3 linked regions of the Homo sapiens genome follow. The protein of the gene in region 1 interacts with the protein of each later gene in a pairwise test. Each region holds a gene or a part of one and is shown on either strand. Other genes may lie near its edges.

Evidence for each region.
Region 2: the proteins of MAGEB18 (region 1) and TRIM37 interact in a two-hybrid assay, tested with the Homo sapiens proteins (one large-scale study listed by BioGRID and IntAct).
Region 3: the proteins of MAGEB18 (region 1) and GLE1 interact in binary tests that used the Homo sapiens proteins (3 or more experiments, as listed by UniProt).

What each region holds. Positions count from the first base shown.
Region 1 is NC_000023.11:26,137,083-26,141,142, forward strand, and holds MAGEB18 (melanoma-associated antigen B18), read left to right. Parts: upstream 1-1,260; 5' UTR 1,261-1,385; intron 1,386-1,841; 5' UTR 1,842-1,903; coding exon 1,904-2,935; 3' UTR 2,936-2,971; intron 2,972-3,097; 3' UTR 3,098-3,654; downstream 3,655-4,060. UniProt on the Homo sapiens protein: May enhance ubiquitin ligase activity of RING-type zinc finger-containing E3 ubiquitin-protein ligases. Proposed to act through recruitment and/or stabilization of the Ubl-conjugating enzyme (E2) at the E3:substrate complex.
Region 2 is NC_000017.11:59,026,881-59,030,380, forward strand, and holds part of TRIM37 (E3 ubiquitin-protein ligase TRIM37), read right to left. Parts: intron 1,844-3,500; coding exon 1,535-1,843; intron 1-1,534. UniProt on the Homo sapiens protein: E3 ubiquitin-protein ligase required to prevent centriole reduplication. Probably acts by ubiquitinating positive regulators of centriole reduplication.
Region 3 is NC_000009.12:128,528,719-128,532,218, reverse strand, and holds part of GLE1 (mRNA export factor GLE1), read right to left. Parts: exon of another isoform or gene 3,219-3,500; intron 1-3,218. UniProt on the Homo sapiens protein: Required for the export of mRNAs containing poly(A) tails from the nucleus into the cytoplasm. May be involved in the terminal step of the mRNA transport through the nuclear pore complex (NPC).

The sequences.
Region 1 (4,060 bases):
CCTTTTCAAGAACATGGATGGAACTGGAGGCCATTATTCTTAGCAAACTAAAATAAAAACAGAAAACCAAATACCACATGTTCTCACTTATAAGTGGGAGCTAAATGATGGGAACACATGGACACATATAGCGGAACAATGGATACTGGGGCCTTTTAGAAGGTGGAGGGTGGGAGGAAGGAGAGGGTCAGGAAAAATAACTAATAGGTGCTAGACTTAATACAAGGCTGATAAAATAATCTGTACAACAAACCCCCATGACACGAGTTTACCTATATAACAAACCTACACATATACTCCTGTACTTAAAATAAAGGTTAAAGAAAAAGAAGCCTCAAGGAATCTTGTAAAAACATTTGTGCTACCTCAAGACTTTAAGTCATGAAATTCACTGTGAACTGGATTAGGATCTTACGCGAGGGGCATAAGTAAAGCTTTTCAGAAATTCAAAGCTGACTCAGCCAGTGTAGTAGAAACAAAACAAACATAATATACAAAGCATTAAATTGAAAGTAATGGTTCCAAATAAGGAAAGATCCTAGCTACTTAAGATTTTCTCTGAGAAGTTCTTTTCTGGATTACTTTTAGTGCCTGAATGAAAGATCCTTTGATGTTTCTGTCATCCTCATTTTTCTCCTAATGTACCATCCTGAAAATCTATTTCAATAAATTTGAGAGGGCTTTAAAAATAAAAAAAAATGGAATGAAAAATATACCATTCAAAAGAGCAGCAACATTCAAAATATACCTAAAAAGAACATTCACAAAAACATACACACTCTATCAAAGCAAATATAAAAATGTGTTGATAGACTTAGGTGGATGCCTAAGTACAGCAATACAATATGTTTATATATGGTGAACATAATATTGTACAGATGTCAATTATCTTTATTTACAGATTTAGTGCCTTATTTGATGGCCTCAAGTCAGCAGAGAAGTGGCCCAGCACCTACAAAAAGTCAAGATAAGACACTGAGTGAGGACTGAGGGCATTACCTACCCAAGAAGAGGGACCCCCACAGAGCCCCGCCCCTACTGTCAATCTTGGGAGTCCCCAGGCGTGGCTGCTGGGCTCAGGTTCCACCTTACTTCCTACTCTGGACTCAGGGAAATGATCCTTTTTCTGAGGCTGACTGATTCAGCTTAGCAAAGAGAGAAGTCCCAGTGCCTGCAAAGTCAATGAAAGAAATATATGTATTTCTTTAAGAACTGCCCCTCCCCCGAACGCAGAACCATTTGCCGTTAAGCTGGGAGAGCAAAGTGGGCGTGGCCGGACATGTTTCTCTTGACCTATCTTCCACATCATCAAGCTGTTACGGGCGAAACCTTGGTCTGAAACATGCGGCCAGAGAAATAAATCTCAGGATCCGGCAGGTGTCAAAGTGAGTATCATTTGTTATGACCTTCAAGACACACTCTTCCCAGAACAGAGGCTGCCTCACAGAGACCCATCCTTCTCTGCTCTGTCCTGCTCCCACTTTCAACTCTCTGTGTCCCAAAGCGCAGCTGTTAGGCCTAACACCCTTACTTCCTGTTGGGAATCTGTGGGATGGGAAGCCATGGTCTAAAGCGAGGCAGCCTCAAGTCAACAGACGGAGGACTCAAAAGACTAAAGTAAAATTAATATCCTAAGTTAGAACTGATGTAGTCAGGAGTAAAATTAATATCCTGAGTTAGAACTGATGTGACAACCCCCCACAGAACAGTCCCACCCCGCTCCTGCCTTATGGGTTCCTAAAGCAATACCCTCAAGAGAACCAGGAGAGGTGGCCATTCTTAGACCAAGGTAGAATCTCCCTACCAAGGCTGTGAACACTATCTCATCCTCCGTCTTCTAGGGTGCCCTCTTCATCAATTCAACTGCCTGCACTATTGTCTGTAGTCCCTGACAAGAGTAATTATGCCTCGAGGTCAGAAGAGTAAGCTCCGTGCCCGTGAGAAACGCCACCAGGCTCGTTGTGAGAATCAGGATCTGGGAGCTACGCAGGCCACTGTGGCAGAAGGAGAGTCACCCTCCCCTGCCTATCTTCTCTTTGGTGACAGACCCCAGAATTTGCCTGCTGCTGAGACACCTAGCATCCCTGAAGCGCTTCAGGGAGCCCCATCCACCACCAATGCTATTGCACCTGTTTCATGCAGTTCAAATGAAGGTGCCAGCAGCCAAGATGAGAAAAGTCTAGGTTCCTCAAGGGAAGCTGAGGGCTGGAAAGAAGATCCTTTAAACAAGAAAGTAGTGTCGCTGGTGCATTTCTTGCTTCAGAAGTATGAAACGAAAGAGCCAATTACAAAGGGAGATATGATAAAGTTTGTTATCAGGAAGGATAAGTGTCACTTCAATGAGATCCTCAAGAGAGCCTCTGAGCACATGGAGCTGGCACTTGGTGTTGATTTGAAGGAAGTGGATCCCATCAGGCACTACTATGCCTTTTTCAGCAAATTAGACCTCACCTATGATGAAACAACCAGTGATGAAGAAAAAATTCCCAAGACTGGCCTCCTGATGATTGCACTGGGTGTGATCTTTCTGAATGGCAACCGTGCCCCAGAAGAGGCAGTCTGGGAAATTATGAATATGATGGGTGTATATGCCGATAGGAAGCACTTCCTCTATGGGGATCCCAGGAAGGTCATGACCAAAGATTTGGTGCAGCTAAAGTACCTGGAGTACCAGCAAGTGCCCAACAGTGATCCTCCACGCTATGAATTCCTGTGGGGTCCAAGAGCTCACGCTGAAACTAGCAAGATGAAAGTCCTGGAGTTTGTAGCCAAGATACATGATACCGTCCCTAGTGCCTTCCCATCCTGCTATGAAGAGGCTTTGAGGGATGAGGAACAGAGAACCCAAGCCAGAGCTGCAGCCAGGGCTCATACTGCTGCCATGGCAAATGCACGTTCCAGAACCACGTCTAGCAGCTTCTCCCATGCTAAGTGAAATCTGAGGCTTGTTCTTCACTTTTTGGTCGAAAAGGTCTGTCAACATTCTAATAGTGGAGGGCCATGGTGGGGCTGGAAGAAATAAGTGTATATCATCTTTGCATTCCTATTGTATATTGATAACTCGAGTTTTACTTTTCCATCTTTTTGTTTCCCCTAGGTTACATTTCAAATGTTCAAGTCTGAAGATTGTTTTCTTTGTGGAAGAGAAGAGCAGTCAACATTCTAAGTAGTGAATGGCCAGAGTGCGTCTGGAGGGAACACAGCATATATCATTTTGTGTTAATAGTCTATAGTAACTCGGAGTTGTATCTTTTTCTTTCTTTTTTTTTTGGTGTTATATTTCAAATGTTGTTGCTTATAATAGAAGTTTTAGATAACTTCAGAATCTATATTTATTAATGACTTTGGTTACACACGTATTGCTATTTAAGAGTAGGAGTTTTATTGTTCTGTAAAACAAATTGGGAAACCTTCTTTCATATTTAATGAGCCAGAACAAGGAAACACAGTATTGGAATAGGTATTTCCTTAAAAAATGTGAGATGATTTAGCAGTAAAATTTTGGAGATCAAAACATAGGTGAGAAAAAGTAAACTTTTCAGTTCTTGGTTTTCTTTTTCCATTTTAGTCTGTTATATAAAAATAAAAGTCATACCTGGATTGGCTTAGCTTACTGAAGAAGGTAGGAAGAAATAAAATGTTTATGAACCAGCATCTATGCTTACCGGCTCATTCATTCCTCCAATATTAATCCAACATCTGATTTTTGAAAGTAATTTTGTTAGAAATGGGAAAACCAGGATACAAAACACCCACCTCTGCTTAGACTTTTACAATTAATGAACAGTAATAATGTATGGAAGATGGTGAAATACTTCTAAGACCTAAAGGACAAGTAACAAGAGGGAGTAAGGAGGTAAGGAGTTAGAGAGGGGTTTGGGAAAAGTGCTGAAGTGTATCTGGCTGAAAATGGTAAGGTGCAAATTCTCTGAAGAAAGGCCCTTTTAGACTTTTGGAAACTTTGAGTCTCTCAGTGGGATATACTTTTAATTTAAGCTGGGTGGTGGGCTAGATGAAGCTTTGGGACTGGAGAGCAGAGGCCAGGCACTCAGATGGTGTG
Region 2 (3,500 bases), on another chromosome or scaffold:
ATTATTTTTGATTTTTGAGATATTATCCCTTCTAGTTTTTCTCCTACCTTAATGATTGCTCTTTCAATTTCCTTTGCTGGCCTCTCCTATTTATCAGATCTTTAAATGTTTAAGTGCCACAGAGTCAAAAATTTTGCTTCTCCATTGAAACTCCCTCCAAACTTGACCCTATTCAGTCTTCTGGATTTAAATAATATAAAATACTATTGACTCCCAACTGTTTATATCCAGCATTGACCTCTCTCTGAGTTTCAAAGTTGTGTACCATTCACGTGTCTATGACATTTTACTAGGATATCTAGCAGGTGTCTCAAATTAAACATGTTTAAAAAAGAATACCCAACTTTCTGCCCTTACCTCCTCCCAAGCCCCATAACCTGCTTCTTATCTGATTTGCTTCTCAATAAATGATACCACTGCCTATTAAGTTGCTTAGGCCAAAACTTAATCATAATTCTTAGTTTCTTTCTAAATAGAACTTTCCTAAAATTCTATTTAGGCTTTTTCAACTATGGTTCTGAGAAAGAACTCAGCCCTGCTGATCTAAGACTGGATTAACTTCCCTCCTATGCATCTAGAATAGAATAGCACATCCTTAAGAGAACTAAGAAAGATGGGAACCTCAGTCAAGAAAGGCTGCTAGACTGTGAACAAGCCCCTCTATCCATTATTGTAACTCCAGAAAATGCCATCATATTTCACACAAGATAATGTAATAGGCTGTTACTGGTCTCACAATTCCTGTCCTCAACCCTTTTCAGACCCTTCTCCACACAACAAGCAAAGTCATCTTTGTAAAGTGTAAATCAGATTATAAACACCCCTTATTTTTATTCTCTAGAGGCTTCCTCCTTACATCATAATAAAACTCGAACTCCTTTTTGAGGTTTTGCAAGACTCTCCCTGATCTAAATTCTGCCTACCTCTCTCTGACTTCGTCTCCTGCTAGTCTCCTCTCTCTGCTTTCTTTGCCATACTGGTCTTCCTTCAATCCTTCAAATACGCAAAATAAATCCTGTGTCAGTGACTTTGCAGTTTCTGTTCTGTTTACCCAGAACACTGCTTGCCCTAGATCTATAAATAGCTGCCACCTTCCTAAACTTCAGGTCTCAGGTCAAGTGCTGCCTCCTCACAGAGACTTTCTCTGACTACCCCAATAGAACATGTCTCATCTGCTCCTCCCATCCCACTCCTCGGTTGTTTCCTTCACAGCACCTTTTACCCACTGAAATGATCTTTACTTACTTGTCTACACTTTTTAATGTCTGATTCCCACTACTAGAATACAAGATCTATGATGTTAAGAATTTTGTCTTGTTTATTGCCAAATACAGAGTAAGCAATCAAGAAATGTTAGTTCTATTATATAGTAAAAATATACGGAATCAATTTTGGATGAAGAAAAAAGTCACATGTAATTTGTAGTCTTAACTCACTGGAAGAGTGGTATTTAAATATTATTCTTTTGAAAAAACCAGTCATCTAGTTTCCCAAATAACGTGTGGAGAAATGACACTGGGAACATATTACTTACAGTTTCGTATGTAACAATTGGCAACTGATGACTTTGCCAGGAGTTCCATTCCCAAATCCTGCAATCTGCCAGAGTTTTCAGTTCCACATGCAGCCAGAGCTGCCTGGTCAGCAGAAAAAAGGCTTGTCTGCATGTCTCCAGAAGCAGCACTGCTGCTTTTTATTTCTGAAAGTGTATTCTTTACATCAGTTTTCATACATCGAACTTCGGCCATTTGAGTTTTGAGTCTTTTTAGCATCTTTAAATCAGAGGGCACTCGCCACATTGCCTGTTGCTTCCTTTGGTCTTTATCTTTTCGAGAATATGATGCTTCAGAGAAATTGACAAGTCATGTTAACATAAACGTTAATATTAATGAAATCATTTGTACCATGAATATATGCAAATTTGATGTGTAAAATAAGCTAGCGTGCTTTACGTGGTATCAACAATAAAACATGCACTAAATTCCATTAATGAAAATAAAGATAAAGAATCCTACCTTATTCACACCTTCAGAGTTAGAATCTGAGTCACATCATACTCAAGTTCGAATTACACATTTAATTCTAAAAGTTTAAAAGCTGCCCTACTGCCTTGTGCTTTCTTCTTTAAACTTCTCCACTTTTCTGAAACTTTCTACAGAGCTTTTATTATGTTTATAATTGAAAAAAAAGACAAAGAAAAATCTAGAAACCAAATACTTTGTCAAATCTGCCATATATAACATTATATTAAAAATACATATTTCTGGCCAGGTGCAGTGGCTTATGCCTGTAATCCCAGCACTTCAGGAGGCTGAGGTGAGAGAATCGCTTGAGGCCAGAAGTTCAAGATCAGCCAGGGGAGCATAGTGACACCCTATCTGTACAAAAAAAAATTTTTTTATTAGAACTTCCATTTCTGATAATTTTCTCAGAACTGTCAGCTTTCTGAAATACGGTTTGAATCTAACCACTTCTAAAATAAAACAATAGCTCTCCATGCCTAGTATGAATAAATTCCTCCGGCTAGCATGCAAGTCCTTTCATAGAATGGACCCAACATGACTCTAGTTCTACTTACCACTATATGTACCTTAAAATCTGGTTCAACTAGATTACCTGATACCTTTTACAGTACTCCTTTACATGGTTAAGAACATGAAGTTAATCTGACAAATGTTCACTAAATATGTGTTAAATAAATACACAGAAAAAAATAAACATCAAAGCCCAAGCAGGCCACGTGCAGTGGCTCACGCCTATAATCCCAGCACACTTTGGGAGGCCGAGGCAGGTGGATCACTTGAGCTCAGGAGTTTTGAGACAAACCTGGCCAACATGGTGAAACCTGTCTCTACAAAAAATTGTAGAGCACTCCAGCCTGGGCAACAGAGTGAGACTCTGTCTCAAAAACAAACAAACAATCAATCAAACAAAAAATGACCCAAGCAAGCCTTTTCAATAAAAAGAAAGTCATATATTTCTGCACACTAGCTTTTATTAACATCCCTTCACTGAAAGGTATTTTCATTTGGCTTCCATGAGTATTTTTTCTCCTTTCTAAAAGCTCTTTATCTGGCTCATCTTCCTGACACTCAGTAAAAACAGATATTCATCAGGATTATGTTCCTGGCTCTCTTCTTTTAAAATATTCTTAAAACTCCTTTGCAATCTCACACCCTTGGTTTTAATTATCCAGTATCACCTCCAGAAAAATAACTGTCTGTATTCCAGTTCATTTTTTTTTTTCATGGAGTTTCACTCGTTGCCCAGGCTGGAGTGCAATGGCACGATCTCGGCTCACTGCAACCTCCGACTCCCAGGTTTAAGCCATTCTCCTGCCTCAGCTTCCCAGGTAGCTGGGATTACAGGCACCTGCCACAATGGCCGGCTAATTTTTTGTATTTTTAGTAGAGACAGGGTTTCACCATGTTGGCTAGGCTGGTCTCGAACTCCTGACCTCAGGTGATCCACCCGCCTCAGCCTCCCCAAGTGTTGAGATT
Region 3 (3,500 bases), on another chromosome or scaffold:
AAAAAAAAAGCAAAGCAGATCTGAATTACTTTCCATTACCTGAAGTCCTGAAGTCAATGTTTTAATTAATACAGCATCTCCAGTTGAGAAATACCCTGTCAAGTTCCTAATCACTTCAAGAAATGTCACAAAAGTTTCAGAAATATCCTGTCATTCAGTTCTCTTATCAAAAAAAAAAAAAGCCAACCATGTGGACCCCACTGGCTGAATGCCCCATCTAGCATCTAGCCTCTCTCCATACCTCTCTAGGTAGGAGGAAAGTTAGTTAGCTTCCAACCCTAGACTGACGTGGCCTCCCCATGCCACAGCAACATCATGTCCTTATTTAAGATTTCTTCTAATTCTAACCACTCATGGACATCCATCTTTTTTTTTTTTTTTTTTTTTGAGCTGGAGTCTCACTCTGTCACCCAGGCTAGAGTGCAGTGGTTCGATGTCACCTCACTGCAACCTCTGCCTTCCGGGTTCAAGTGATTCTTCCACCTCAGCCTCCCAAGTAGCTGGGACTACAGGTGTGTGCCACCACGCCCGGCTAATTTTTGTATTTTTAGTAGACACGGGGTTTCACCATGTTGGCCAGCCTGATCTCAAACTCCTGACCTCAAGTGATCTGTCTGCCTCATCCTCTCAAAATGCTGGGATTACAGGTGTGAGCCACCACACCCGGCGACATCCACTTTTTTTTTTTTTTTTGAGATGAAGTCTCACTCTGTCACCCAGGCTGGAGTACAATGGCACGATCTTGGCTTACTGCAACCTCCGCTCCTGGGTTGAAGTGATTTTCCTGCCTCAGCCTCCCGAGTAGCTGGGATTACAGGCGCCTGCCACCACATCTGGCTAATATTTGTATTTTAGTAGAGATGGGGTTTCACCACATTGGCCAGGCTGGTCTTGAACTCCTGACCTCCTATGATTCACCCACCTCAGCCGCCTAAAGTGCTGGGACTACAAGTGTGAGCCACTGGGCCCAGCTGACATCCACCTTTTTTTTTTTTTTTTTTTTTGAGATGGAGTTTTGCTCTTTTTGCCCAGACTGGAGTGCAATGGCGTGATCTCAGATCACCGCAACTTCTGCCTCCTGGGTTCAAGAGATCCTCCTGCCTCAGCCTCCTGAGTAGCTGGGATTACAGGCATGCACCACCATGCCCAGCTAATTTTGTATTTTTAGTAGACACAGGGTTTCTCCATATTGGTCAGGCTGATCTCGAACTCCTGACCTTGTGATCCACCCGCCTCAGCCTCCCAAAGTGCTGGGATTACAGGATTACAGGCGTGAGCCACTGTGCCCGGCCCACCTTTTTTTTTTTTTTGAGACGGAATCTCGCTCTTTCACCCAGGACGGAGTGCAGTGGTGCTATCTCGGCGCACTGCAAGCTCCGCCTCCCGGGTTCATGCCATTTTCCTGCCTCAGCCTCCGGAGTAGCTAGGACTACAGGTGCCTGCCACCACGCCCAGCTAATTTTTTGTATTTTTAGTAGAGACAGGGTTTCACCGTGTTAGCCAGGATGGTCTCGATCTCCTGACCTGGTGACCCGCCAGGCTCGGCCTCCCAAAGTGCTGGGATTACAGGCGTGAACCACCGCGCCCGGCCCACCTTTTTAAAAAAGAGAAGAATTAGGTGATCCTTCCCTCCTATTCATTAAACGCTTACTGAGCACTAACTAGAGCATGTTCTGTGTCTGGCTGGACTACAAGATCTTAAAGGACTTAAAGTCTTGATGGAGACAAAGGGAGAGTCAGGAAATGTGTAGAAAAATTAAAAAAGGCAAAGATATAGACTAATTCGATGTGGTGAGTGAAAGAGAGGCAGCAGTCATAAAGATGACTCCCAGGTTTCCAGCTAAGATTACTGAGTAGATAATGGTGCTACTGATTACTCAAGAGAAAACAGCAGACAAAGAGGGCTAAGGAAGATGATGGGTTTGGATTTGAACACATTAAACTTGAGGCAGCTAAGAGACATATAGGCAGAGATGTCCCTCAGGTAGCTGAAGCTGGAGAATCTGAAGCTCAGAAGAAAGGAATAAACCAGAGGTAGGTTTGGGAGTCATCAGCATTCAGGTAATGTTTGAAGCCCTGTAAGTAGAGAGAACGAAAAGAACTGCAGGATAAGAGTAGATCCCAGCCGGGCACAGTGGCTCATGCCTGTAATCCCAGCACTTTGGGAGGCCGAGGTGGGCAGATCATGAGGTCAGAAGATCGAGACCATCCTGGCTAACACGTTGAAATCCTGGCTAACACGTTGAAACCTGGTCTCTACTAAAAATACAAAAAATTAGCCGGGCGTGGTGGCAGGCGCCTGCAGTCCCAGCTACTCGGGAGGCTGAGGCAGGAGAATGGCGTGAACCCGGGAGGTGGAGCTTGCACTGAGCCGATATAGTGCCACTGCACTCCAGCCTGGGCGAAAGAGCGAGACTCTCAAAAAAAAAAAAGAGTAGATCCCTAGGAATCACCTACAATTAGAGTGGGGTAGAAGACTAAGAAACCCACAAAGGGGAGAGAGAGAGAGGGAGAGAGGGAGAGAGAGAGAGGAAAGGGTAGTGAGGGAGGGAGGAGAAGAACCTGGAAAGTAATGGCACCATGGAGGCCAAAGGAGTAGAGTTGCACAGAGAAAGCAGCAACAGTGCCGAACAGAAACCTCAGGAAGATCAGCAAACACTTAGAAGACATAGGATCAAGGGAGACTCATGTTAGGATGTGAGGGGCTCACATATATTTACAGGCTGAGAGAGAGGAGCCTATAAAAAGGAGTAATCACAGAAAACAGGAAAGGCAATAAACGATGAGGCAGTCTGACAGGAGACAGGAAGGAAAGGGAACAAGGGCAGAGGTGGAAGGGTAAGCCCAGCAGCAAGGACGCCTCATCCAGTGACACAGGAGACTAAGAGGTAAATGTCACTGTGCAGTGGTGGAGGGGCTCTGAGGAGCTCACACTGGATGTCTCCATTTTCCTGATGAAGGAGGTACTGACCCTGTCTGCAGTCAACAGAGGGGAACTGGGAACGGCCATCGAGGTGTGGAGTGGCTGTCCAGTCAACCTCTCTTGCTTTGCTGTTGCTATCAAAGGACACAGCACTTTAAATTCCAAAAAGTGATATGTTATTTATTTATTTATACCTTGCCCTGTTCCAGAAAGAATTTCAGGCAGCAAAGTCATATGTAAGTTTTGCTGGACTGCCTATCAAGGGCAGGAACTGAAATTTTCCTATGCTTTCCAGGCAATGAGAAGTGAGTCGGGGAACGGAACCCACGATGCGTCAGAGGAGTGTTCCAGTTGCACACACACTCCCCAGCCACCTGGCAGCTCAGTCTATAATCTGGAGGCTTCCACATCTACAGCTCCATACAAATGAACCTCTGGTTCTAAAGAAGTTTCTTCCTTGTCTGGTTCTCACTTTCTAAACCTCAGTCTCTGGAGAGAAAAGGAGTCCTGGAGGATGAACAAGGCGAGCTTGGAGTAATTTGGAAAAGCTAATGTTGTAGGACAGAAGCAAAGCCTG